Linked DNA regions of Homo sapiens: region 1 is linked to region 2. The links come from fine-mapping of genetic effects on gene expression. Tissue or cell type: whole blood. Region 2 holds a variant in brackets; the other region holds the start of a gene. All regions are shown on one strand. Distances are between the middles of the regions.

The links. PIP is the estimated chance that this variant, and not a neighbour inherited with it, causes the effect.
Region 1: it holds the start of FCER1A, and the variant in region 2 is fine-mapped to the expression of FCER1A in whole blood (TOPMed, PIP 0.96).

The regions. Positions count from the first base shown.
Region 1 is chr1:159,300,684-159,303,298 of GRCh38, forward strand. FCER1A (Fc epsilon receptor Ia) reads left to right here and starts at 1,653. Exons shown (of 5, transcript NM_001387280.1): 1 at 1,653-1,736; 2 at 2,171-2,191. The coding sequence starts at 1,682.
Region 2 is chr1:159,643,646-159,646,407 of GRCh38, forward strand. No RefSeq gene overlaps it. Among named protein-coding and RNA genes, the nearest start is that of APCS, 57 kb to the left of the region's middle. The variant A/G (reference allele first, on the strand shown) is at 1,126.

The DNA.
Region 1 (2,615 bases), 340 kb before region 2:
TCTCCTATAAGTCTTTAATAAATAATGATAATAAAGAAGACAAAAAATGTATTTATTGACCATATTTCACATGTCAGATGCTGTGCAATGCATTTTACTTCTTTTTTATCTTATTAAATCTCATAATATAACCATGACCTGGATACCATTATTGTCCCTATTATACAGGTAACCTTCAATCACATAAAAATTAGGAACATTTGAATTCAGAGCTTAAAACACAAACAACTTGTACTTTTCAAAATAACTTGCTGTTACCTTTAAGGTCTGTCATTAAAACATAGCATGTCCTGGGCTCAGTACCTAATCTTTCTTATCTGAAACTTAAATTCCTATTTATTAACCTTTTTAGCCCTATATTTTCTAATTCCATAGAAAACTAAAGGTTTTGGTTAGATCTTCATGTGGAATGACTGGTTTCATTCAATAGACTTAATTCAGCAGTCTGTGGGGAAGAGCAAGGTATGATAGAATGGTTCCTCAAGTGCTTCAGATGTGAAGTGGGTTTAAATATACTGTCCCTGTCTTCTTCAGAGTTTTGGTAAAGATAAAATAGGACACTCATTTAAAAGCAATCTTTGCAAATGACAAGCCACTATAGACATTAATAGAGTTTTCATTTCCAGTATTATCATTAATATCAGATCCTGGAAGAAGGTTGAGCCTTGACCTAGAGCAAAAAAACAGAAGAATTAGTAAAGGAATCCTGGAGAAAGCCCCTGCTGTGTATTTAAAGGAGAAAGGGAGATCATGTTGGGAAATTATAATATTAAAAGTAAACAAAAGCTAGGAAGTAAAATAAAATAAATTATATGGCCTAGATCCCCATAAGTAATGGTTTAACTTCTGCCTTCCTGTGTTCTGAGCCAGATTAGGGCACAGTAGAGAAAGAGGAGTCTCTGAAAATGTTTCCAATTTCGCTGGTCAGACAGCGGATCATCAGTGAATCAGATGAAAATTTGTGGATTTATGCACTAACTGATCAGCAGGAAATTAAACAAGAAAAGCGTTGGTAGCTCTGGTGAATCCCAAAAGAATTTGGCAGTTGCTAGCCATGCTCCTGAATATGTATAAACAGTACATCATATGACTAAGAGTTTGACTTAGGGGTTAGATTTTATGTGTTTGAACCCCAAATTAGTTATTTAATAGTTGGCACCCCAAAACAAGTTACTTAACCTCACTAAGATTCAGTTTTCCTGTTTATAAAATGTAGATAGTGATAGTATGTACTTTATAGGATTATTGTGAAAAATAAATGAAATATCAGATTTATTTAGGATAACACCTGGCATATGTTTGGTATTCAGTAATTAGTTGCTGCTGTTTTATTCTGCTCTCCCTTGCATCCCACTTTTCTAAGTTGTAAACTAAATAGTTGTACACAGATTGACAGATTAAGAAAGGCTTGTGATTGTGCTAGACCTATGCCTCTCTCTCACCAGATTCCAGGTGTATATGTGGAGGTGGGATAGGGAGTGGAGTAAGTGGGTAAATATTAAATTGCCCAGTTGGGCACCATCCTGAATATTATCTCTAAAGAAAGAAGCAAAACCAGGCACAGCTGATGGGTTAACCAGATATGATACAGAAAACATTTCCTTCTGCTTTTTGGTTTTAAGCCTATATTTGAAGCCTTAGATCTCTCCAGCACAGTAAGCACCAGGAGTCCATGAAGAAGATGGCTCCTGCCATGGAATCCCCTACTCTACTGTGTGTAGCCTTACTGTTCTTCGGTAAGTAGAGATTCAATTACCCCTCCCAGGGAGGCCCAAATGAATTTGGGGAGCAGCTGGGGTAGGAACCTTTACTGTGGGTGGTGACTTTTTCTAGGACATGTGCAAACTATTGGGCATTTCCCAGGGACTCTGTAGTGGAGCCAAGCTAGAAAGCAGAGGCAAGTGGGCTGAGCAACACCTAAGGAGGAAGCCAGACTGAAAGCTTGGTTCCTTGCATTTGCTCTGGCATCTTCCAGAGTGCAAATTTCCTACCAAGGAAATGAGGGTAGAGGAGAGAAAGAAGCTCTTTCTTCCCCTGATTCTGATTCCTGAAAAGACGGTTGGTCCTTAAAATTCCATGGATGTAGATCTTATCCCCACACCCAGATTCTAGTCCTCTGGAGATAAAGAAGACTGCTGGACACTAATGTATCCTCTCTGGACTTTTGCAGCTCCAGATGGCGTGTTAGCAGGTGAGTCCTCTGTTCTTGTTCCCTTGGTGTTTCAACATGTCTGGGCATTGCTTTCCTCTCACTATTTTCTTCGTCCCATCACTTCTGCTTTCTAATGAGCATGAATCTGTTCCTTGGCCAGACTACTTTCCCTCTCCACCTTGCCTTGTCTTTCTTTTTTTCCCTGATTCATTGCATTCTCTCAAGTCATTCTCTCCTCTGTTTTAGTCAATAACCATGTCTGTTGCACATATACATGTCTCATTCTCTCTCCTAGACACTTTGGCATGATCTCGCTCAATAATTACATTATTATTATTATTGCCATTTTATAATTGAGGATGCTGAAACTCAGTGATTTTCTGGTGGTTACATGGCTAAGGAACTGGATTTCAACGTAAGTTCCTTGGATCTAAGTCCAGTTCTCTTCTGACTATATCACCCT
Region 2 (2,762 bases):
GAACTAATTTAAGTTCTACATTATGTATTTTACGTTAAACTTCTACTTTAGTAGTTTTGCGTGTGTTTAGCCTTTTATGAATGAAATTATATTATATATGTTATTCTGTGCCTGGCTTATTTGGCTCAACATTATGTCTTTGAAATTCATATATTTTTTGGTAGTGTATAGCTGTAATTTATACATGTATTTCACAATATATTTATCATGTATACTGTTTGATACTTGAGTTATTCTTGGCTTGGGGGATGCTCTAAATAGATCTGCTATACACAGGCTTATACATATCCCAGTACACAAGGATGTCCTCACATCAATTCTCCAATATTACATTTTGTAACACCATTTGGCAACAATTTAATCTACAGGGGCCTTGACCATTTAATCATCCCTCAAGACCTCACACCAGTCCACTACACTGACAGTGTCATGCAGATAGGTCCTGGAAACAATGTTACAGGGCCAATAGGTTCATATGCCTGCTTCACAGTAACATACCAATACACTGAGACAGCAGGATTTACAGCAGAGAAAGAGTTTAAGTTCAGGGTGGCCAAGCAAGGAGATGAGATGAGACTTCAAATTCATCTCCCTGAGGAGTTCTTGGCTGTGCCTTTTAAGGGGATCATGGAAGGCAAGAGGCTGGAAAATTGGGGTCATAGATTGGTAGAGGTAAGGGGCATGAAATAATCAGTATGTGGAAATTGTATTCTTTGGTGAGTTAGCTCCCCAGGGGGTCCTTCAGACCAAATGATGTCAGTAGCTTCATTAATAAGCAGGACCTGAAAGAACACCTCAAAGGAAAAACAACAATTCATAATATTCAAGTTGTTAGTTATAGAGCAATTAAGAGTAACTATAATCTTGTAACAGGTCTACATGATTCTAGGACAATAGGCACCAAATAGCTATAAGGAAGCATGTCAGAGAGCAAGCTCACATAATGATTATTGATGAATGGGCTGCAAGCTTGGTTTATTTTCACTAGCCCCCTTGCCTTCTTCCCTGATTAATTTTATAAAGTTTATAGGAATGGTTTCATTAAGAAGTAGCAAGTACTTTCCATGTTTTAGTAAGGCCTACATAGTAAGTTGCACAAAAACAAAGAAGGGGGCTGGGCACCAT[A/G]GCTCACGCCTGTAATATCACCACTTTGGGAGGCCAAGGCAGGCGGATCACAAGGTCAGGAGTTCGAGACCAGCCTGGCCAACGTAGTGAAACCCCATCTCTACTAAAGAAATACAAAAAAATTAGCCGGGCATGGTCATGTGCACCTATAATCCCAGCTACTCAGGAAGCTGAGGCAGGATAATCACTTGAACCCAGGAGGCAGAGGTTGCAGTGAGCCGAGATGACGCCACTGCAGTCCAATCTGGGTAACAGAGCGAGACTCCATCTCAAAAAAATAAATAAAGCAAAAGCATTCATGCAGCCCATTTACCTGTCATTTCAGAGTGGCCCATTCATAAAGAGCCTAGAGCCTGAAAATATCTGAACATAGCATCTCATACAAATTCCTCACTGAAGATGAGATGCTTAATAATCAGAGCATCAGGAGAACTATTTTGTTGTTGATCCCAACTCTTTTTCTGGCCAGCACATTCACTGCTAAATGAACTAATAAATTAAAGGCCGTGATGGAGGATATACATGGACTTACTAGCATGGACTTCCACTCACCAAATCTGACTTGGTTACTTAATGCTAAACTCCTGACATGGAGAAAGAGAAAATGGCATTATTCTCTATCATGAATAGGGTAGCAGTTCGTCCTCAAGAATAGACATATTACGGGTTTAGATTTGTTTCCCTGCTCATCAAATATCTGTCAGCACCACCTTTGGTGGTTATACTAAATTTCTTATGCATCATTGTGGCATCCTACATAATAGTGCCTCTGACAGAGGAACACATTTCACAATGAAAGAGAGGAATAATCTGATGCCCATGGAGGGAAATGGCCAAATTATTTTCTAATTATTATGGACTTATAAAAGGCTTTTGCAATGAGATGTGTGTGTGTGTGTGTGTGTGTGTGTGTGTGTGTGTGTATGTGCCTGTGTGTATTTGTGGCTGCTGTAGAAATTTTTAAAGTTTTTTAATTTGTATATAAAATACGATAAATAAGTTTTAAAATTTGATCACTATATTATTAAATATGCAAAGATTCATTTTCACACTATCTTTAATAATTTATAATATAAAAAGACATTTTTACATTTAACAAGTGACATGCTACTTAATTTGCTTTAAGTTACATGTGTGTATCTGACTATATTATAAATAAATTCTTAAAATTGATATTATGCTTGATTTAGAACCCAAATGTAGGTCTTTGTAACACATTGTTAGATACAATCACGACAAATTTTCTATCTTAATACAGAGAACGCTTAATGTGCCACATAAGAGTTTTGATTAGCTGAATGCCACTTAAAGATTTGGTAAGATCATCTTGAGATGAATTTGCTGAATTATTGTCATTAACTTATACTTCAACATCAAGCTTCATTATGTTTCTTGTATTTATCAACAGTTCATTATGAGTATAAATTAAATAGCATGCAACTATGAATAAAATAATTTAAAACTGTTTAATGGTCAAAACTATTAAACAAGAGTTTCTGAGTACATTCATCTGATTGCCATCAGCCACAGATAATGTTCATTCTATATCTGCTCAAGAATGACAAACTGTCCCATTTCCAAAAGGCAAACTAGAAAATGTTAGTTTATTAGATACTTAGCCAAATTTCGTTACTATC